Homo sapiens: one gene and its partners. The protein of the gene in region 2 purifies or fractionates together with the protein of the main gene of each other region. This does not show direct contact. Each region holds a gene or a part of one and is shown on either strand. Other genes may lie near its edges. The genes, in order: MACIR, AVPI1 and UNC119B.

The links.
Region 1: the proteins of AVPI1 (region 2) and MACIR purify together in Homo sapiens (co-immunoprecipitation; 2 studies listed by BioGRID and IntAct, with this or other methods). This does not show direct contact.
Region 3: the proteins of AVPI1 (region 2) and UNC119B purify together in Homo sapiens (co-immunoprecipitation; 2 studies listed by BioGRID and IntAct, with this or other methods). This does not show direct contact.

The regions. Positions count from the first base shown.
Region 1 is NC_000005.10:103,254,237-103,262,206, forward strand, and holds the start of MACIR (macrophage immunometabolism regulator), read left to right. Parts: upstream 1-4,526; 5' UTR 4,527-4,660; intron 4,661-4,793; exon of another isoform or gene 4,794-4,959; intron 4,960-4,988; exon of another isoform or gene 4,989-5,041; intron 5,042-5,187; exon of another isoform or gene 5,188-5,555; intron 5,556-5,669; exon of another isoform or gene 5,670-5,780; intron 5,781-7,970. UniProt on the Homo sapiens protein: Regulates the macrophage function, by enhancing the resolution of inflammation and wound repair functions mediated by M2 macrophages. The regulation of macrophage function is, due at least in part, to its ability to inhibit glycolysis.
Region 2 is NC_000010.11:97,676,916-97,684,445, forward strand, and holds the end of AVPI1 (arginine vasopressin-induced protein 1), read right to left. Parts: intron 3,001-7,530; 5' UTR 2,991-3,000; coding exon 2,704-2,990; intron 1,111-2,703; coding exon 954-1,110; 3' UTR 509-953; downstream 1-508. UniProt on the Homo sapiens protein: May be involved in MAP kinase activation, epithelial sodium channel (ENaC) down-regulation and cell cycling.
Region 3 is NC_000012.12:120,705,523-120,713,457, reverse strand, and holds the start of UNC119B (protein unc-119 homolog B), read right to left. Parts: upstream 3,001-7,935; 5' UTR 2,984-3,000; coding exon 2,740-2,983; intron 185-2,739; coding exon 71-184; intron 1-70. UniProt on the Homo sapiens protein: Myristoyl-binding protein that acts as a cargo adapter: specifically binds the myristoyl moiety of a subset of N-terminally myristoylated proteins and is required for their localization.

The DNA of each region.
Region 1 (7,970 bases), on a different chromosome or scaffold from region 2:
AAGTAAAGTTTAATTTGCCCAGATTCAAGTGGTAGTTTATGAGTACCTGTTCTGTGCCAGTCTAGATATTGTAAAGGATACACGTATAAACACAACTCAAGTTTCTTAAGAAGCTTATAATTTAGTGACCAACCGGAGGTCCCACAGCAAGCTGGAACTGAGAAGTGATTTCTCTGTTGTTTATAATGCTGTTATATTTTTGTTTCCTCTATTTTCTATCTTCTTTTTTTATTGATATAATTGAGTTAAATAGGCTTTTCTATGCAAATTATGGAATTTAATTACATTTTCTTTCTATGAAAGAATATTTCTAAAAGCACAGATTTTAATTCTCTGAACTGCTGTCCTCCTCCGCACACAGGAGGGGCCCTTTGAAGATTATCAAATGGTATGCTGGTAAACTGGCTTTCTGGGGGGTGGGGAGATTAGAGAGAAATGGGAAGCCCTGTTTATAGAATTTGCCAATTTCTATGGTGTAAATACTCCTACCATAGCTGATTTCAAGCTACTGATGATTTAACAACCAGTTTGCAAAGTTCCTGAAAATTTAGCAATCAGTACTTCTGAGCCAGATACAAGATACAAGCTGGCTTCAGCAGACCTTACTACAGGTTCTTCTCCCACTCCTCGCAGTAAAAATAGGCTAAATATTTACTGAGCACCTGTTATATGTCAGTCTCTGGGCTTTCTTTGGGGGTTAGACATAGTCTGAGACCTCAGGGAATGTATAGTTTAGAGGGGGAGATAGTATATTTCAGCACTGTGTGGTATTAGGCCAGGGAAATGAGAAATATCAGTAGGAATCAGAAAACTCTTCTTAGAGGTGGTGACATCTACATGAAATCTGAGGAATGGCAAAGAATTAGACTGAGAGGGAGGGGTGGAGAAGAATGCTCCACAGGAAACAATTATGTACAGGCTTAAATAATGAATAAGCAGAATGTGAGTGTGGAGTTAGAAGTGGTCTAGCAAGAGCTGAAGGGCAGCCTGAATTTCCCTCCTGAGCGCCCACTCCACATATCTGGCCTTCTGCTTGACACCTCCATGAGGATGTGCCACAGAGTCACCAAATTCAACATATTCCAAAGTAAGCTCCTTCCACCTTTCTCCTCCTCAGCTTGGTCCACAATACTAACCGTCTCTTACTTCTATGGCTGGATAATATTTTGAGATACTAATTTATGATTTTTTTTCCAACTTGTATTTACCCCCTTGTTGCCTTCGGGAGAGATGTGGCAGGGTAGAGAGGAGTTGCCTGCAGATCATTTTTTCATTCTGGCTCTTACTGAAAACAACCTGAGCCCCCAGAGACAGAATAGAGTTTGCTGGCAATGGCAGAGTGTCTGGGAAAAAAAAAATGAAGAGGAAGGATTTTCCTTAAGAAGTGATTCCCTTGTATCTGGAAAGAAGAGGATAGAAGTCAGTATGTCCCAAGGCAGTGGGATTTGAGCCCTGAACTTGGACCACCATAATACCCTAAACATAAATGACCGAGGATGTGTGAGGCTTAGCAGGATGGTCCCAGATCTAGGAAATTCCTCTGGCCTCAGGTGTGGTGCCGGAGCCAAAGGGAGGGAACCAGTGTATAGGGCAGGGCCGTCTCGTCTATAGGCAGGTTGTGCACTGTATCATGGAACCATAGGTGGCAGCTCCAGGAAGGAACAAAGGAAACCTCTGTGGACAGATGACTGCAATCCGAAGGACCTCCCCTCCACTCCCTGCCATCATCACCCATTCATGGTCTGGTCTGGCATATGCTCTTGGAACTTTGACCCTGCTCGAGGGAATGAGGGAAGAACTTTACAAAAGAGTAAGGCCTTTAAAGAGAAATAAAATCAAGTGCAGATTCACGTTCTATGTTCTTCTCCTAGTCTCCTCAGTGTCTCAAAGGGCTGATCCCCGTAGGCTGTTTCCCTGGCTCCCATGGCAGGTGTATCAGACTTGGCCAATGCAAGGCACTGGAAGGAGATTGGAGGGCAGGAGAGGAGAACGTATAGTACATTTCCCCCTTCTCCCTCCCTAGATTGCTTCTTTGGCAGTGGTTGTTTCTCCTCTATGGCCGCAGCTCTCACCAGGCTGGCCATGCTGCCTGGGCCCTGGACTCCAATAACCCTGCCTCTTCTCTTATTTCTCCAGCTAGAGGTCGCAGTTGCTAGTTTCTGGATTACTGTGCCATCTCCTGATTAGCTTCTGACTTTTCCTATCACCTACGTTACCAATTTCTTGCATTCAATTACTTCTGTAGATACTCAAAATGGTTTCTGTTTTCCTGGTTAGACCCTGCTTGAAACAAATGAGTTTATAGAAAAGAAGGTAATGTGGTATTTCTTGCACACCTGTCTTTGTAGATTCTGTTTTACATCATTATGTTGTTATCAAATTCACCTATTCTGTTCTCTCAAGCTGGTTGTTTGCTAGCCGACATCATTTACATCAACGTAGTATAATATTTCCCAGGCAGCTGACATTTTAAAGTCATTTTAAAGGGATTTTCTGGAAAGGATGCCTTGAGGCAAAGACATAACTTACACAAGGAGTGTGTGAGATGGAGCTTCTGAGTCCCCAAATTCAGAAGGCCTTTCAGGGCTCTGGGTCTATTCTACATTTGGGCCTAACCCTTTATATGAATGCCATTTTTCTTTATAGGTTGAAGAGATCTTCCTAAAACACTAAAAAGCTCTGGGAAGGGATTCTGCATTAACTTGCACCTCTTATATGCCCCTCAGCCACGGCACTTGCAACCCACATCCAATCCGAGTGAAGACAATACCCAGTCAGTATCTCTAGGTGGCATAAACATATCCTTGATGGAGCCACACATAAAGCTATTATCAACCATTACTGCATGGTGAATTGGTTTATTAGGTGTTCTTTGTGACACTCAAGAACTGACTTAGGTTCTGATTGGGTGAAGATTCAGGGTTAGGATGGGAGCATAGAACACCACCCAGGGAGGGAGGCAATTTGGAGACAATGCCCTCAAGAGAGCTAGCCTTGAGCCTAATAAACTAAGAGGGGAACTTTATTGCTTTTGGCCAAAGCACACTGCCAAACTCTCAGCGCAAAGGGCAAGTACAAGACATTCTTCTGAAAAAGTTATAAGATTTCAGACAGGAAGAAATGAAATTAAGTCTCTTAATATAAAATATACAATGTTTTGGAGGTGGTTTTATGAGAATGATCATCAGGACAATACACTATTGTGTCAAACAGATTATAATCGGAAATAATTCTCGGTGTATTCTCCTAATGTACTGATGCAAAAAAAGTTTCTTCATTTATTTATTCATATTATGTTGTGCTAGCTTCTATATTTTTGAAATTACATGCAAATCTATGTCGGGAAAAAAAGTAACTGATGTTTTGTAAAATTGTTTAGGGAACATTCCTTAAAACTTATTCTTCCCTCTACCTTCCTTTACTTATTTTAGGGCACATAAGCAGTAGCATAAAATGGCTTATAGCTGAGCGGCCTCCGGGAGTGGTTCTGTTGGACTAGAGGTGTTTATATATTTTTTGCCTTTATATTATCAGGAACATATGTAGATTCTGGAACAAGTGTGAATCAAGACTCGTTTAAACTTATATTAATCTACTCCAGATTTATGTCTTTTATGTTAAGATAAAGCATTTTGTCTTTTAAAAAATAAAACTCTCTTGATTGGACACTGGTACCGAAATTTATAACACTTATAAACAATTTTGGGGTTCACCGACTGCGTACACATTCAGCCTTAGCCACTCAGTAGGCATATGACCTAAACTTTCTGCATTTTTAAAATGTGGATCATAATTGGTTACTTCCTCACAGAATGGTTATTGAGAGATGTAAATTTGGATATGCATGCCAGTAAATATTCTTATTGCTGAGCTTAACCAGTTCGGCAGAAATGTACATGAATTGAGAGAAGCAAATCTTCATCAAAGAAAATAATTTATTACAATAATAGACAAGATCAACATTTGTGCAAATTAAAAAATAGTTAATCCAATCAGAATCTGAATTTGAACTCCCCCCCCCGCCCCACCCCGCCACCTTCACTGGGTATTACGAGTTTTCGTAGACTGATCCTATAATTTTTAATTTCATGGCCTTCTAGTTTTCTGTACTTTTGCTTAGTGCTGAGCCCTTTAAGCAGAGACTCACAAGTGACAAATATCAGCACACCACTTAACTGAGGAAGCCGGAGTGTTCCCAGGTCCGCAAGTTGGAGCTCTTTAGTTGGAGTGCTGGGTTTAGACTAGAGAGCGGGTGTTGCGACTCCTCCTCCCCACCACCAGTCAACAACCCCGCCCACCCCCGCCAACTTCTTCTGGCCTCTTAGCGCCTTTCTGCAGCCAGCCGGCCCGCCCTTCCTCCGGGTGTCTGAGAGCTGGGCGCAGGAGGCGGGCTCAGCGCTGACGGGCTGCGCCTCTGCAGCCAGAGGGAGGAGGCGGGAAGGCGGGCGGAGGAGGAGGCGGAGGAGGAGGCGGAGGAGGGGGCGGGGACTAAGCAGGGCGGTAGCTGGCGCCGAGCGCGGTGGGAGAGGAGAGGGTACCCGGCTGGCTCGGCTGGCGGCCTCTGCCTGGATCTCGGCGCCGCAGTCCTGCGCCTCTCCCGCCCCTGTCTCCCGCTCCGCAGCCCCGGGCACGGCGGAGGCAGCGGAGCCCTGGGCCATCGGTAGGTTGCACGGGGACGACGGCTCCGTCTGTAACCTTTTGTGCTGCAGAAAAGGTGGTGGTTATGGGGGGCTTGGGGGAGTGGGTTTGCCCCAGGCTCCGATCCCCAGTGCCAGCCCTAATCGCGGCGCCGCCCCTTCCTCTCCGCCTCGTGTCTGGGCCGGGCGCACGATGCCCGCGGTGCTGGGGAAACCCGGCCGGACCAGCTTCTGCGATGGGCGGCGGGGCGGCCCCAGCGTCCCTTGGCCTTGGTGGACCGGTTCCCAGGCACCCGAAGGGGACTGGGGTCTGGTAAACTGGGTGGGGCCCGCGCGGGGTGCGGGGAGCTTGCGGTTCCCTGGCACAGGGGTGGGGCCGCAGACGCCGTGAGTGTGCAGCGCGTGTGAGTGTGCGGGGGCGTGCGCCCCCGTGTGCGCGCGTCGTGCGCTCGCTGGGGAGGTGCGGGGACTCGGCGACCCGGAGCGCCTCTCCCGCGGTGCCGCGGTGCGGAAGTCGGGGCGCGTTGGCGCGCACGCTCGCTCGCTCCCTCCCTTGGCCGCTGTTCCCGCACCGCGGGGCAGCGGGCCTGGAGGCCCCTTTGAGAAGTAGCTTTCCCCGGCCGGCGGCACCTTTGGCTGCGTGCCCGGCCGCGCTCAGGGTGCGACTGCCCGGGTCAGATAGCACCTCAGGGCGAGCCCCGGCGGTCTGATCTCGCCGACCCTCCTCGTCCTGGTTGCAACCCGCGTGCGAGGCCGCCCGCGCCCTCCGAGTGTCTGCCGGTGCAGTGGGGGTGGACTGGCCGGCTGTGGCCGTGTGTGCGCGTGTGGATTGGGGCCCGGTCCGAGCCAGAAGCTTAAGCGGCAGATGTCGGGCATTGCCACCCTCGCCCCACCTGTCGCGGGTGGACTTTGGGGCAGGTGGGAAGCGGAGGAGAGGGGTTTCGAGGCGGGTGGCAGTCAGACCTCCAGCAACGCGGCCCCATTGTGAAGCTGCCAAACTCTCTCTAGTGGTGGAATCTGCAGGTCTCCGCCAGAAAGGAGATGGGAACGCGAAGGGAATGATGGCCCCGTCCTTTTCCCCTTGCTAGTGTTCCACACGCTTAGGGACTCCCTGCCTCTCCTTCCACCTCAGTTTTCAACCCAGTGGGTTACTGATTTGGGTGGAACCAAGATTTCCGTGTGTGTGTGTGTGTGTGTGTGTGTTTGTGTGTGTGTGGTGCACAGGTAAAGCTGGAGCTGGGAACTTTTTATTTGAGCAGGAAGAATGGAGGCATTTTACAGTGTGCTTGCCGCTCCTAGCTGAAAGAACAATTCTTGCATATTTCTGATGTTACTAGACTCATTTTCCTTTTTTTTTTTTTTCCGAAGAGCCAACCTACAATTTAGGGTTGTTAGTTGTTTTATTTTCTCAAATCCTGTAATGCTGGATTGACACTATAGAGGTAGAAATGACCCTTTTGCAAAGTTTATTTTCCCAGTCATTTCAAAATATAGTATTGGTTATTACGGCAGAAGCTTTTGGCCGCGATTTATGATTACACTATTAAGTTTAATGAATGTGTCACAGAATCCTCAGTGTTTTAATTATGTAACTGTGAATGCATTATAAACTGAAAAGTAAAATGAACAGGATGGAATATAAGAGTTAATGAATACAGAGACCTGTTAATTTGATAATAATTGATGTATAGAATATGCTTTTGCTAACAGTTTATTTAATTGCAAATGAAAGTGTTAGTAATTATTTCAGTGTATAAGATATATTTATTGATATTATATAACAGTCAATGAATTTGCTTATTTTCTTTGTATATTTCTGTGTATTTTAGAGAGCTATTATAAAATTAACTCAAAAGTACTTAATATGGTTAGAGTAATAAAGCTTTATGTACAGGGTTTAAAATTTCTTTGCTGATTTGTAGCTGGGGGTGAGGTGGGGGATCAGCTCCTTTCCTCCAGAGAGAACTTTGATTTTGTCACCAGCCTATCAAAATGAGTACCTGGTTTTAAGCCTTCCCAAAGATTAGCCAATTCCACAGTGTACACCTGTTCCATTTTGATGATACTTCCTAAGAGACAAATTTCTTGTAAAGGCTGCATGTTGACCTTTAGTTCCACTTACTGTCGGTCATATTTGCAGTGAAACTGAGTATTTTTCTAAAAGTAGAAGGATGACACCACGTGATAAGAAGATATTAGTAACCTAGGTTTAATTTTTACTAGCAGAAATGGAAAGATAATGAGTGCTGCACTTTAAGGGGGTGGATTGCTATTAAAAGAACTGATACTAGAAAGAGAAACACATTTTTGTCTTACTGAACGAATTATGGGTTATCTTACAAAGTTGGCAAGGTTAATGGTTTGTTTGTAAGGTCAAGGATGGTTTCAGAAAAGTCACACCCTAGTTAACTCTTCTTAAAGAGTATTGATGACTTACTTTTTGCAAGTTGCAAATGGTAAAGTAAGAATATTTGAAAGAAGCCTCTAAGATGAGCATCTAGGTGCAGCTAAACATTTTGTTTTCATTGTTGTGTTGTACTTTGACAGTTAAGCCATTTTATTTCTGCTTAGTGTTCAGTTAGTATTCCTCCAGAGATGTTTTGGTTCATCTTTTACTTGTTTTTAGTGGTCTTTGAGATTAGTGGTTACAAAATATTTTCACTATTTTGAAAGAATTTTTAAAAATTGATGTTTTTTTTCCAAGTGCTTTTCCATTAGTGGTCTCTTCTTAAATAGCCACTCTGAAAATACTACCTGTTTTTCTTTTTCTTTCTTTCTTTCTTTCTTTCTTTCTTTCTTTCTTTCTTTCTTTCTTTCTTTCTTTCTTTCTTCCTTTCTTTCTTTCTTTCTTTCTTTTCTTTCTTGAAAATGTTTTGGTGGGCTTCAGGTTAGGGCCATGAAAAAAATGAAAATAAATGTTTTGATAGCTAGAATTAGAACTCACAGCTTCTACTGTACCAATTTCTCTGCCTAAAATTTGTCCTTTCATAATATAAACTTTAATGATGAATGTGATTTTTATTTACCAATATTTGAAAGGGCTATGTGCTGGTCCTCATATTTATAGTCTTATGATTTGTGATCAATGTTGTTAAATTTTTTCTTACTGCTGTTTTGTTAGTGATCTGTGCTGAAGCTTGAGATTCACGACTTTTTTGTGTGTTTACGAATTTTGTATGGACATAAACATTTCCAAATGGAGCTTTGTATATTTTTGGGAAAGGCACTCCCTTTTTTGGGTTCCTAGTGCCATTCAGGTTTACTGTTATTAGAAGGATTTATTTCCATGTCTGCCCTCCCCTCTGACCCAGTCTCAGGCCATCTCTTTATATG
Region 2 (7,530 bases):
GTGGGTGGAGAGGGAGAAGAAAGCTAATAAGCACAGAGTATGCCTCTCTTGAGGTGGAGCCAGAACTGTGGGAAAAACCCTGCCTTCAAGGGTTTCCAGGCCATGGGAAGCCTAGGATATAACGCAGGCAACTTCAGAATCATCAGTCCACCTTGGGATGGTCAGCCCATAAGGATGAAGAAACCAAATGAGGATCTGGCACCACTAGTTTGACTACAGATTAAGCCAGCCCAAGGCCTCAGCCTACTGTGCTGGGCTGACCATGACAGTCTTCCCCCTTCTCCTGATCCTATGGATCAGGACTGCTGCAGAGACTCCCCTCTTTACTCCCGATCCAACAGACTCTGGAAAAGGAGGCTGTGGTCCAGGGGCTCAGCATGGGGGTGAAAAAGGAGAGGGAGGTGAAAAGGAGAGAGGAGGCCAGCCCTGATTTTTCCTTCCTGGGGACACTCTTGCCCCTCCCACTCTGTTTCATTTCCTCCCCTTCTGTGACAGACTCACACAGCTCTTGATGCAAATGTTTTTATTTGCCACTTAAACTACAGTTTCCCTGTGCTATCCTGATGGTGTGGGGGTGTGGAACAGGCTGCTGGAACCATGGTTTACAGTAGTAGCAGGTAGATGATTAGTAGCATGAGTGGTGAAATGCTGCATCTAAGTGCCTGTCACTTTGCTCCCAGGGGAATATCATGCAGCCCAGGAATAGTGTTAGACTGGGAAGGACTGTGGCAGGAACAGTCACTGTCTCTCCTCATTTTGGTGAGGAATGGGTCCCACATAATGGAGAGCTCAACAGAAGCATCCAGTCTTGTTCTGAATGGAGCAGGTCAGTGGCAGCAGCCTCTTGCTTTCATTTACCCCTTTGGGCTGCTTGCCTAAAGTCTCTCTTCCTTCACCTCCCCAGGCCTTTTGGCAAGAGGGAAGACACTGCCATTCCTGGCTCTTTCCCTGGATCAGTGTCTGATCTGGTGGAGGTAGCTTGTGGGGCCTGACTTCCTCCAGTTCCGGCGGATCCTGGCACTTTTCTTCCTAGAGTGCAGATACTGCTCACTGGAGGCTGTCTCTGTGGCACTCTGTGGGTTGGCCAGTGCAGAGTGGGGCTCCAGGATTCTGCAGAGAACAAGTGTATGATTAGCCAACATCAATAGGAAGAATGGAATGGGGACTTCAAGAGATTTCGTCATGGTGGACCATAAAACATATGATTTGGAGCAAAATGAGAGCGGGGCTCTGCTCTGGTCTTTCCCCCTCTGAGAACTGTCTGACTAGACAAAGTTTACAGATTTCTCTGCAGTAGAAAGGGTTGGACCAGATCAGGTTGTGCAAAACTCAACATTTCTTCATCCTCATCCTGTACTCATGGCAGATGTCATAAGTCATGCTATTAAACTGGTTTGATAAGCAGTGACTACTAATTAACTGGAGTTAAATACAAGCTATGACACTGACTTGCCATCTCAGGACCTGATGACCTCCAAAGGCCTGTTTAGGTCTGATGTTCTGATTGTGGGCCCCAGAGAAGGCAGCAGAGAGATGAAGCCCAGAGCATCACCCATAGTGATTGGTTGAGGCCAAGTGGTTCAGCTCCATCCCTTTGGGTTCACTCTTCCTGGGCTGGCAGTGGCCTAGGCAAAGAAGTGGCCCACCAGGGAGACTGGGGAGAGATCTCAAGGTAAAAGTTTTCAACAATTTTTAACCCATAATGCCTCGACAGTACATTCCTAGGCTATATTCTCTGTAATCCCCCAGCCAAGATTTTAATTAGGCTTAAAAAAAAAAAAAAAAGAGAATCTCACTCTGTCACTCAGGTCACTCAGGCTGGAGTGCAGTGACAGGATCATAGCTTACTGCAGCCTCAAACTCCTGGCCTCAAGTGATCCTCCTACCTCAGCCCCTGGAGTAGCTGGGACCGCAGGTGCATGCCACCATGCCTGGCTAATTTCTCTTTTTTTTGGCGGGGGGAGGGTGTGTGTGTGTGTGTGTGTGTGTGTGTGTGTGTGTGTGTGTGTGTGTGTGTGTGTGTGTGTGTGTGTGTGTGTGTGTGTGTGTGTGTGTGTGTGTGTGTGTGTGTGTGTGTGTGTGTGTTTTCAGAGACAGGATCTCGCCATGTTGCCCAGGCTGGTAAGCTGAGAATAACGGCAGAATGAGGTGATGCTACTAGGACTCAGGCATCTCTTTCCATGGGAGTTCACAGGGTTGTATATGACTCCAAAAGTAACAGCAATCTTTTTTTTTTTTTTTTTGAGACAGAGTCTCGCTCTGTCACCCAGGCTGGCTGGAGTGCGGTGGCGTCATCTCAGCTCACTGCAACCTCCACCTCCCAGATTCAAGTGACTCTCCTGCCTCACCCTGCTGAGTAGCTGGGATTACAGGTGTGTGCCACCACACCCAGCTAATTTTTGTAATTTTAGTAGAGACAGGGTTTCACCATGTTGGTCAGGCTGGTCTCAAACTCCTGACCTAGTGATCTGCCTGCCTCGGCCTCCCAAAGTGCTGGGATTACAGGGATGAGCCACTGCACCCACCAACAGCAATCTCTTAAGTGCCAACCAAGTGGTGACACTGTGTAGACCTTATAACCACCCCAATGGTGGGCAGGCACTTTACAGTGAGGCCAAGTAACTAGCTCCAGGCCACACAGCCATGCAGTGGTGGAACAGGCATTAGTGCTCTTCCCTCAGCCATCCGGTTCTAGGAACCTACCTGAGGCGGCTGCAGTGGTGTAGCGAGTGGCCCAGGGGTTTCTGCCTTGGGGGCCTCTTCCTGCGCAGCCTCTTGAGGGCCTCAGCCACACGGTGGTCCCCTGCACATTCCCAGATGATCTGTGCCCGTTCCTCGGCCAGCTGGTCCCCGCTGCGTTGAAACAGGGCTTGGATCTGCAGCAGCTCGGCGTCCTGGAAGATGTTGGCCGAGGCCTGCTTGCGGCCCCGGGCCTCAATCGGGGCCTGCCAAGGGGGTGGCTCACTGACCACCGAGGCTGGGGTACCCATTGTGGATGCTCTGAGGATGCAAAGCATGGAGACATCATCAACTCAGCTGGTCCTTCCCAGACCTGGGGGTCCTGGCTAATCCTAGGGCTTCTGATGTTTCCATTCTCCAAGAGCTAAACTGGAGGAAGTCTCCTGCCTTAAAATCACTTAAGCACTTATGTGTCAGACCCCCATATTATCTCATTTAGGATTCAAAGCAACCCATGAGGTAAGAATTATTGTTTATCCTCATTTTACCGATGAAGAAGTGCAACTCAGAGGGGTTAAATGACTTGCCAGCGTCACAAAGCCACGTGCACATGCAGAGCCAGCAGTTGAACCCAGGTCTGTCTAGCTGTAGATTCCATGCAGACGCCAGGATGCCCAGTAGCAGCTCAACTGTGTTGAGTACTTATACCAGGCACCTGTAACAGCTTGCTTCACATAGTATCAATGAGATGTAACAAGCACAACAGCCCTGTAAGGTAGGTATTTTAATCCTCCTCATTTCACAGATGAGGAATCTGAGGAAAGGTTAAGTCATCCATGGTTCTGCAACTAGGATGAGAACCCAGGCCTCTCTGATGCTAAGGCCCAGGTGCCGTAGCACAAAGGTAAGAGAGGAGTTGTGGAGCTGGGCTACCCGAGTTGGAATCCCACTTCTACCCCCTCCACCACTTACTGGCTGGGCATCCCCCCTGCCTCAGCTGCCTCCCGTGTCAAATTATCACCTAGTACTACTACCTACTTTGTAGGATTAATTTGAAGATTGAAGGAAGACAAAGTATATAGAATAGTGGTCAGTGTTTTCAATCTATAAAATTGAGACATCATCCCACCTCCTATCTTTAAGACCCTGGGGATGAACCAAATCTGTATAATTTAGCAAACATAGTATGAAATGAGCCAATCAGATCTAACCACAGTCCAGTGGACCTAATGAGCAAGAGGTGGAGGCAGAAGAGGAGGCTACAAGGGTTAGAATATACTGTCAAGGGCAGAGACTGAAACTTATAAGAAAGTTCAATAGAAGTTAGACTCTGTGTCAATGTCTCCCATCATATCCAGGAAGTGAAAATTAAAGGATCTCCCTTGATTCTAGATAGTTCACTTTGAATAATAAAGGCCTAAGAAGCTTACCCACCCATCCTTGTCTCCAGCACAGCCTGGAAACAAGGGAAGCCTGGCATTACATAGAACAGGTTTTGAGTTCCAACTCTGACACCTTAAGCAAGTTACCCAACCTCGTCTCTGAGCCTGTTTCCTTAACTGTCAAATGGGGATAAGATTACCCACTTCTTAGGGTTATAGTAAGGATAAATGAGCCCAGTATATCAGTTACCCAATAAGAGCTAAATAAAATTATATCAGTTACCCAATAAGAGGATAAATAAAAAATTTAAGAATACAATGATATGGCTGGGCGTGGTGGCTCACACCTGTAATCCCAGCACTTTGGGAGGTGAGGCGGGCGGATCACCTGAGGTCAGGAGTTCAAGACCAGCCTGACCAACATTGAGAAACTCCGTCTCTACTAAAAATACAAAAGTAGCCGGGCGTGGTGGCGCATGCCTGTAATCCCAGCTACTCGGGAGGCTGAGGCAGGAGAATCACTTGAACCCAGGAGGCAGAGGTTGCGGTGAGCCGAGATCCCGCCATTGCACTCCAGCCTGGGCAACAAGAGCAAAACTCCGTCTTAAAAAAAAGAATACGGCCGGGCGCGGTGGCTCACGCCTGTAATCCAGCACTTTGGGAGGCCGAGGTGGGTGGATCATGAGGTCAGGAGATAGAGACCATCCTGGCTAACAAGGTGAAACCCCGTCTCTACTAAAAAATACAAAAAATTAGCCGGGCGCGGTGGCGGGCGCCTGTAGTCCCAGCTACTCGGGAGGCTGAGGCAGGAGAATGGCGTGAACCCGGGAAGCGGAGCTTGCAGTGAGCCGAGATTGCGCCACTGCAGTCCGCAGTCCGGCCTGGGCGACAGAGCGAGACTCCGTCTCAAAAAAAAAGAAAAAAAAAAAAAAAAGAAAAAAAGAATACAATGATACAACAATTAAAAAATACAAATAAAAAATAGATACATTGTAACTACAAAACATTCACATTGTATTAGGTATTATAAGTACCCTAGAGATGATTTAAAGCATGCAGGAGGATGTGCGCAGTCTATAGGCCAACATGGCATTTTATGTAAGTGACTTAAGCGTCCCACGGAGGAGCCTGGAACCACCCTCCATGGATACTGAGGAATTTATAAACGCAAATCCTCCTCTGTTGGCCTCTGTGACCTTTGTACCTGGGTCAGGGGTACAGGTAAACCCTCCTCTTTCCTCTAAGCTGTGTGGCACAGCCAGCTGATGACAGGCCTGTGCTCCCACCCATCTCTCCCAGCCCCAGGCCTGCTGGGGAGAGGAGGAGCAGGTCCTGCTGCTTCTCCAGGGCCTGGTTGCCTAAGTCAGACCTCATTCCACAGCCAGCTACAGAGACAGCTGTCAACAGCAACCAGCTTCCAAAAGGGGAAAAGGAACATTAAAATATTTTTAAATTAAAATATTTACATGCTCATCATAAGAGGCAAACAGTACAAAAGCTTATATATAAAAACTTTTCCAATTTCCTATCAACCCACTTGCAGAAGTAACCCTTCCCCTAACCTGCCTTTTGTTCTCTGTAAGAGTTTGAATTGTCTCCGCCCCACTCATACTCCCAAAATATGACTCCCCCCCTTGCCCTGGCCTTCTCCGCTCCTCACCTCAATAGTCACCCTCATTATCCCAATCATTTCTATGCTCACTCTGTCCCAGTTTCCAGGCCTTCTATCATAAAAACTCCACCCTGTTTTCAAAAGATTTAACAACTACAATAAAGCTGCAGAAGACTTCCAGATGAGTTAACGTCATGAAAATTGTATTTTATTTGGAAAATGGAAATTTAAAAATCTGCCTCTCCTTAGGTGCTATTATGAAAATCCAGTTAAAACCTAATCTATATGGTAATTAAGCCCCCAGAGCTGGATGACATAAACACACTGTGACAAGAAGACAACAGTCGCCAAGTAACACTTTTAGGCTGATAAAAAGAAAAGCTAACTATGGGATATTTACTCTGGATCAGGCAATACGTATGATATCCTTTAATCCTCAAAACAATTCTAGGAGTTAGGGACTGTTATCCCATTTCACAGGGAAGTAAAGGGAAGCTAAGATGCAAATATGAGTACCAGTGGCTTAGCCGAGGCCAGAGGTGGTTCAAATGACTGCAGCCCATGCTTTTATTTTTATTTTTTTTTTGAGAGTGAGTTTTGCTCTTGTTGTCCAGGTTGGAGTGCAGTGTTGCAATCTCAGCTCACTGCAACCTCTACCTCCTGAGTTCAAGTGATTCTCCTGCCTCAGCCTCCCGAATAGCTGGGATTACAGGCGTCCCCCACCACTCCCGACTAATTTTTTGTATTTTTAGTAAAGACAGGGTTTCACCATGTTGGTCAGGCTGGTCTTGAACTCCTGACCTCAGGTGATCCACCCGCCTTGGCCTCCCAAAGTGTTGTGATTACAGGTGTGAGCCACTGCGCCCGGTCAGCCCACGCTTTTAAACCCCCGAGCTGGCTTCACAGCCAGGCAGCTTAAAGAACACTTCACATTTCTATGAAGAATGCTTTCCTATTCCCACCTAATTCATGAAGGGGAAATCCTACCAATGGAAAGGGAAGGACAATGAATTATCCCACCTGGTGGAGGCAGGGGTGGAGCTGTGGAATTTCGTTAGTCTGTTCTCTAGGGTCAGGGCTCTTTCCTGGGTGACAGCCCAGCCTTGAGCCGTAGCACTCTAAAGAGGAAGAGCCCAGCTTCCACAGAAGAAATCAAGAACTGCAACCCAGCCCAGTGCACAGAGCCCTGGCTTACGAGTCAGAGGAGTCGGTTCAAGCCCTACTTCTGCCACTCACTGGCTGAAAAACCTCAGGCAATTCACATCCCCTCTGTGGGTCAGCTTCCCTGTTACTGCTATAAGAACAGCTTGATGCTGTTTGTTTCTGAGGGCCTGCACCAGTGCTGAGAGTCAACAATTCCACCCGCAGGTAAGTCTGTACAGAAGGAGGAACGGAGCTACTTGTCTGCCAAAGCCTAGGGGCAATGTGTGGACAGGTCTGGCTAACTGGGTGCTAGGAAATTCCCCAGCCAGTAGCTCCCTTTCTCCTCCCTACTCTATGTTGTTTTGCTGCAGTGGGCCCTGGGGTTAGCATCTGGTAGAAAACAGAACTCACAGCTCTAAAGCTCCCTAGTGACCTCAGCTGGCAATGACCAAGCCCGGGGCAGACGCCTAGGCAGGTCTGGGGTAGTAGGAGAAAGGGTGATATCTGGCCTCACCTCCCCAGGAAAAGAAGGGCAATAAGGATCATGTAGCAGCAGCTGCCTCGGGGAGGAAATGGCTTGGAGCCTGACTTCCCAACAACCTCTCCCAGGATGGCAAGGCTTTGACTCCACAGCTTCAGCGAGCTGCGAGTCACAAACATACCAAGAAACCCTCAGGGAGAGTCTGAGCCTCCAGCCTCAACCCTCCTTGAACC
Region 3 (7,935 bases), on a different chromosome or scaffold from region 2:
CACAAAGATTTGAGTTTCAAAGACCTTTGGCTCAAAACTGTCTAGTGGTCACCACAACGTAGAGGCCTACCTGAAACGCAAGGTTTGGCAATCTCAAAAAGTACTGTCCCTGTCTCCAAATCTCGAATTTTGAAGCGGGTGAAATCAATACTGTAGATGTTGTCTTCGGGTTTACATAAATAATCTGAAAACAAGAGAGAGAAACCAACACTGTTAAATAATCCTCCAAAACTACCATTTATTTAATTCTCAAGTTTTGAAGCAAACTCAGATTTTTTCTTACACAACACACTTAAAATACTCCCAAAAACTTTCTCATGTGTTATCACCAGCAGAAGTTGTATGGACAGAATTAGGGGATCCAACAAAGAAAAAAAATAACAAGGACTTGCTTTGGATGAAAAATTGCAAAACTTTTAGAAACTAGGATAGAAAAGGTGGATTTCTTTGGAAACACATAAAAATCTTTCATCATCTATCAAGTTGGATGTCAGAACAGGGCGAACTTTTTATAGAATTCCAATCTAAGACATTTAAACTGACTTAGCAGATAATACAGTGCTAGTTTGCCAACGTTAGTTTGCCAACTGTCAGTGTAAGAAAGCCGAGATCAGCAAACTTTTCTGTAGAGCCAGATTCTAAATAATTTAGGCTTTGCCGCCACATGGTCTCTGTCACAACTACTCAACTCTATCATTGTAGCCACAAAAGCATCCACAGACAATACGCAAATGAATGAATGTGGCTATATTCCAGTAAAACTGTATTTATGGACACTGAAATATGAATTTTACATAACCACGTGTCTCAAGATTTTAAAGTTTTTTTCAACCATTTAAAAATGTACAAACCTAATCTTAGTTTGTGGGCTACACAAAATCATACAGTAGACAATACATATCATACATATCCAGGCAAGAGGATAAATCTGCCGGTGAAGACATTAGGCCCAAGTGACTAGAACATGAGCCGCAAATTGAAATAATTCTAATCACAGCAAATTTCACTGATTTCTTTCTAGGATGATTCCGGATAGCATCTTCTCCACAGCTCATTTTGATACTTGATCTTTTATTGCCTGAGTTAGTTGTTTTCGTGTTTTACAAGTTGTCTCTTTATTAAGACGACAAACTTGACAACTACTGATTATTCTGTAACTGCTAAAAAGGCTAACATTGGCTTTGGACTCTTAGAGGGTACTCAAATAATCTGCTGGATAGAATGAACGAGACGTTAAGAAGAGTAACAAAGAGGTTGCCAGACTCTAAGAAGCTGCAGAGGTGGGTTTGGACAATGAGCAACAATCCCAAGCCCCCAGATAGGATCTGAGTGCCCACTGAGAATCCTGCTTAGGGCCAGGCACAGAATACCCTAACTCACTTGGATGGCAGGAGAGGGCATGAGGTTACCAAGACCAGGTGCTGAGCATCTGTACTTTCAGAGCCCCAAATGAAAACTGGTTCAGAAGAAAAGAAGCTTTTTCACACTGTTTCAATAAAACTAACAAGAATGTCTAAAGATACGTTCAGGTCTGGTAAGGACAGTCTCAACCCAAACAGTATTGGGAAACGGGGGCATCCAAATATCTAGAATCAAATTAAAACTCTTTTAGGAAATGGGAATTCCCTTTCGCACAGGGTGGACCAAGGCCTACTCCCCCCAAATTTCCATCCCCAAATTACTAGAGCTGCAATCGGCAACCTGAGGTGCACCTGAACAGCCCTGGGCTGCCTGCTATAGCAGCTCAGCAGACACCATGGCAGCCTTCGATCCATCCAGGGAATGTTGCTGCTGCCACAGGGTTAGGAGACTGCACGCCAGGAGTGATGGGCAGGCCAAGATAGGCCTAACTAGGTGAGTGCACACTCCTGCAGGGAAAACAGCAGCAAGAGAAAAGACGTCAAGTCAGGGACTGGCTTGGCAGAGAACAGAAAAAGGGAGATCACCCAGGGCAGGGACTGGGCAACATTTTTCTTCCCACCCATCCTCCTATCAACGAAAAAGCTTAGGATGGTTGCCTTTTGTGCAGGAAACGCATTTCTGAAACTCTGAAATCATTCTTAATTCACGAGAATGTCAAAAGCAGGATTCACATGTCGGAGTCTGTACACAAACTGAAACTTTATTTTTGTTTTAATGTGGCACAGTTTTAAATGAGCAGGAAATGCCACGGCTATGTGTTTTGAGGAAGAACCCATCTGCACACTAAGGGGCAACGCTCCCGACCCAAAGAGGGAGGGAGGCCGGGCAGGCTGCAATGGGGGAGGGCTGCCATGGGGCCAGGGCGGAGGAAGCAGGTAAGGCTTCTGGCCTGCCAGAGGGCTGGGGGAGCCTGGCTGAGCGGGAACTTCACTGATGGCCGGGGGTTCCAGGCTGAGGGCCCAGGGGCCCATTTATTAGGGGACCTCGGCCCCCGGCCGGCTCAGGAGGATCCAGTTCAGCTGAACGGGGCCCTCTACCCAAACAGGTCCGGCAGAGCTGGGGAGCCGACCGGCCGAAGGGCATCCTAGCGTGGCCGGACTCACAGGAATGCGGTCCAGCCCAGGAGAGTCCTTCCCCACCAGAGCTACGTGAGCGTGGCGGGAGCAAAGCCCGGCCGGCGGGGCAGCGGGAAGCGCGGCCCGGCCGGCCGAGGGGGTCTGGCGGGGACCCCCGCGCTGGTCAAGTGGCCGGGTCCGCTGAAGGCTCCGGGAGCCGGGGCACGGCGCGAGGGGAGGGCGCGGCCCGCGCGGCACTCACTCTCGGTGACCCGGCTGAGGCGCAGGACGTGCTCGGGCCGGATGGTGTCCAGCGCCAGCAGCTCCTGCTCCGTGACCGCTGCCCCGACGCCGTCGTCGGCCGCGTGGTGGGGCGCCTGCCGCCGCGCCTTCAGGCGGTTCAGGACGCCGCCGCCCGCCTTCTTCTTCTCCTCCTTGCCAGCCACCAGCCCCCCGGGCCCAGCCGCCGACGCCGCGGCCGCAGCCTTCGGGTTAGACCCGCTCATCGCTCCGCCGCCAAGATGGCCGCCGCCTCCACAGCGCGGTAACTATGGAGAGCGGGGGCGGGGCCCGGGGCCCGGCGGGGAAGGGGCGGGGAGGGGGCGGGGCGGGGGCGGGGGCGGGCGCCCGGGGGGCTGTGGAATTCCCTTTCGCACAGGGTGGACCAAGGCCCACTCTCCCCAAACTTCCATCCCCAAATAACTAGAGCTGCCATCAGCAACCTGAGGTGCACATGAGCAGCCCTGGGCTGACTCCTATAGCAATTCAGCGGACGACACCATGGCAGCCTTCGATCCATTCAGGGAATGCTGCTGCTGCCACAGGGTTAGGAGACCGCAGGCCAGGAGTGATGGGCAGGCCAAGATAGGCCTAACTGGGTGACTGCACACTCCTGCGGGGCCCGGGGGGCGGTGCTTCGGCTACTGCCCCAACTTTGGTCCTGCCAGGTGGAGGGCCTAGGGGTGGCTGGAGCTTCAGCAACCCCACTCCCCATCAGACCCCCAAGATCCTCCACGATGTTTAAATACATATCTTACGGTCAAATGAATTTACGTCATATAAACTTTCCTCCTCCTCATCCTCCTCCTGGTCTGAAAGAGCACACAGAATCTTCCGTGCACCATCTCGGCATTCTCAATCCAAGAGTTCTGTCACCAGTCCCAACAGCACAATGGCAACTAATTCCCAGTAATCACACCAAGAAGAAGAATGGCCAGTGTTTACTGCGCACTTGCTATATGGCAGGACACTTGCTATAGGGCAGGCTCCTCACCTCACAACAACCCTGTGAGGTATTACTGTCTCCATTTTACAGATCAGGAAGCTCAAGTTCAGAGAAGTCAGGTAACATGTCCAAAGTCCCTCAAGCAGTAAGAGGAGGGAACAGGGATTTTAATCCAGGTCCATCTGACCCAAGGCCTGTTCTTCAACACTAAGCTATTAGTGGACAATGCATCTTGAGAAAATGTTTATTAATATATTTAGCATAGAAGGTAAGTTAAAGCAGTGTTTGTTTTGCAAAGGCAGTTTCAAGACAAACTTTCCAATGAGATTGCCATCCGTAAGCCCTACTGTGCCAGGCCCTGGGCTAGACATTGGGCTAGGCTACAGGAGATGTAAGAGTGAGGGCAGGGATTGGGTCTGCCTCACCCCTGAATTCCCAGCAGTTCAGCTAATGCCTGACACGTGGTAGGTGCTCAGTAATGATTGAATGAGAGCCTGAACAGTATCCCACTATGGAAGAGCTCCCACTTTTGTTAGAGAAGACTGTAAAGTACACAATTCATTATGTGACCCTTCCTTTTCACAAGGTAGGTTAGTATGAACTGGAAGACAAACTAGATTCACTGACTGCACTAAGAGATGCAGCAAAGGTGCTAGGAGAACACACAGGAGTGGTTTATTCTGACCTGGCTGTAAAAGCTTGAGGGCTTCGGAAGTTTTCAGAGGCAATATCTGCACTGAGCTTTGGAAGTTAGCCATGACCTCACCAATTAGCCAGAAGTGGGTCAACAGGGGGATGTGGTCTACCGTCTTCCACCCTGAGGGGCTCCTTCTCTAGGGATTCTAGATCTGCACTGTTCTGTGTTGGAGGCCTGGGCCTGATTGATGCAGTGTGTCTGCTAGGTCTGACATCACCTCTCAGCCAGGCTAGAGTAAAATTGCAACCGTCCCCCAGAGCCTCTTGACGTTCTTGCCAGGCCTTGCTTGCTGAGTCCCTCTCACCAAAGCCACCAAGACAGGCATCTCTTGGTTCCTGGACAAAGTCCAAACCTGACCCCACCCCAGCTGCCCAATTGGGTGGCATAGTGTGTGGCCAAATTCCTACCCAAATGCTGTACTGTCTTTGAGAGATTAGTATATGGTGGCATTTAACTAACTGTTCAGGGAGATTTTAATAAATGTGTACAAAGAATTAAAGTCTTTCCTTTTACAAACAACTCTTTTTAAACCACTCAACAGAGTGGTTACTGAAGAATTTCCAGAACTTTTAATATGCTACTTGATTGTGAATGGCCAAGAGGGTGGTTTAGCATGTGGTCATTTCCCATATACTTATTTACGGAAGGTTTGTTCTCATAGCACCAAGACTAGTTACCTGGACCATGGCTTTTCTCTTTCTAGGGATGATGGCAAATGTAACCTCTTCACCTGCAATTCCACATCTAGGAATTTACCCTACCTGCATGCACAGAGATTTGTAATATTGACAAATTACAATAAATTACATTTGTATCCATTCACGTTACATAGAGCTGTTTTAAAAAATGAGACATATATATTAGTATGGAAAGATCTCAAACATATATTAAGTAGGGCAAAAAGCAAGGCACAGAGTCATATTTGTGTATTTATTTATTTAAGACAGGGTCTCACTCTTGTCACCCAGGCTGCAGTGCAGTGGCACAATCACAGCTCACTGCATCCAGCCGCGAATCCCATTTATTTAAAATAAAAAGTATATAAATATTTAGATGTGGGCCGAGTGTGGTGGTTCATGCCTGTAATCCCAGCACTTTGGGAGGCCAAGGTGAGCAAATTGCTTGAGCCCAGGAGTTCGAGACCAGCCTGGGAAACATGGCAAAACCCCGTCTCTACTAAAAATACGAAAATTAGCTGGGCGTGGTGGTGCATGCCAGTAGTCCCAGCTACTCAGGAGGCTGAGGTGGGAGAATCACCGGAGCCCAGGAAGCCGAGGCTGTGTGAGCTGAGATCGCACCACTGCACTTTAGCCTGGGCCATGGGCGTGAGACCCTGTCTCAAAAAAAAAAAAAAAAAAAACACAGATAGACATAGACATAAATATAAATATGCATTTGTAACTGTAAAGGAAGAGGTCTGGATATACATTAAAACATTAACTTTGATTACGTCTGGGGAGGAGAGTATCAGAAGAGACTAAAGGAAATATATTCACTTTTGACATTATTTAGAACTACTACTTCTGTACTATTTTATCTCAAGCATATAATCATGGGCTGCTTGTATACTTTTTTAAAAAGAAAATACCGGCCAGGTGCAGTGGCTCACGGCTATAATTCCAGCACTTTGGGAAGCCGAGGCAGGCAGATCACAACGTCAGGAGTTCGAGACCAGCCTGACCAATATGGTGAAACCCCGTCTCTACTAAAACTACAAAAATTAGCCGGGCATGGTGGCACACTCCTTTAGTCCCAGCTACTTGGGAGGCTGAGGCAGGAGAATCGCTTGAACCTGGGAGGTGGAGGTTGCAGTGAGCTGAGATCGCGCCACTGCACTCCAGCCTGGCAACAGAGCAAGACTCTGTCTCAAAAAAAAAAAAAAGAAAAGAAAATACTTTTGGATCTGTGTCTGGAAGGCAAACTCTATGCCAAAGTTGCCTTACAAATCTTTTAAAATTTAAAAGCAACCTCAAACTTAATTTTTTTTTTTTTTTTTCTGACGGGTCTCGCTCTGTCACCCAGGCTGGAGTGCAGTGGCACAATCTCGGCTCACTGCAACCTCTGCCTCCTGGGTTCAAGCGATTCTCCTGCCTCCGCCTCCCAAGTAGCTGAGAACACAGGCACGCGCCACCATGCCCAGCTAATTTTTGTATTTTTAGTAGAGACGGGGTTTCACCACGTTGGACAGGCTGGTCTCGATCTTCTGAACTTGTGATCCACCTGCCTCAGCCTCCCAAAGTGTTGGGATTACATGCGTAAGCCACTGTGCCTGGCCTGTTTTTTTATTTTACTTTATTTTTTATTTTTATTATTCTTTTTTTTGAGACAGAGTCTCATTCTGTCGCCCAGGCTGGAGTACAGTGGCACAATCTTGGCTCACTGCAACCTCCGCCTCCCAGGTTCAAGCGATTCTCCTGCCTCAGCCTCCCAAGTAGCTGGGATTACAGGTGCCCACCACCATACCTAGCTAATTTTTGTATTTTTAGTAGAGATGGGGTTTCACCATGTTGGTCAGGCTGGCCTTGAACTGACCTCAGGCGATCCGCCTGCCTCAGCCTCCCAAAGTGCTGGGATTACAGGCGTGAGCCACCATGCCTGGCATTTTTTTTTTTTTTTAAGTAAATACTGCCATATGAGTCAGAGCTTGTACTCTCTCTGGGCACTACCTATGAATTTTGGTTAAAAGGAATAGACTGGCTGGGCACAGTGGCTCATGCGTGTAATACCAACACTTTGGGAGGCCAAAGCCAGAGGATTGCTTGAGGCCAGAAGTTCGAGGGGTGAGAGTGAGACTGTAAGAAAGGACGGGGGGAAAGGAAGGAAACGAGAAAAGAAAGAAGGAAATGAAGGAAAGGGAAAGGGAAGGAAATATATATAATTTCATTTTTTAAAGGGGTAGGAAAAATTAGGGGTGTAACCGCCAATCTGCCTTTCCACATCAAATTTTTTGAGGTGTGGGGAAAGGCTCTTTTAAAATGTCTTTTGAAAATTACATATACTAACACTTTATTTGGGGGAAGAAGGAAAATAGAGGACTACTGCATTAAATAGTAATCCTGACACCAAAAGCAGAGGGCCAGCCTTCCTTTCCCCCCAGCTCAGGGCTGACTCTCTCCCGCTGGCTGTTTTCCTCCCTGTAAGAGGTGTGAGAGTGGCTGTTTTCCAGGGCAGTCCCAGAGTAGCCAGGCAGTCTGCCTTCAAATCAGGCCAGGCAGGTGGGGCCCAGAGCTGGTGTAACCAAGGTAAGCAAGACATCATCAGCTGGCATTTTTCTGCCAAGACTGAAAGTTCAGTCCTGCTTTCTGCTGCCTCCCCAGATGGCATGCACTGAATTAGCAAATCATGGCTGGGATTGCAGGCATGGCTTGTGGTCTGGGACTAAGAGCTAGTAATTTCCTTAGTACCAAGTCACTCTACTATCTGGCTGAGGGCTGTTTGTTTGTTTGTTTGTTTGTTTGTTTTTAAGAAGGAGTCTTGCTCTGTTGCCAGGGTGGAGTGCAACGGCATGATCTTGGCTCACTGCAACCTCTGCCTCC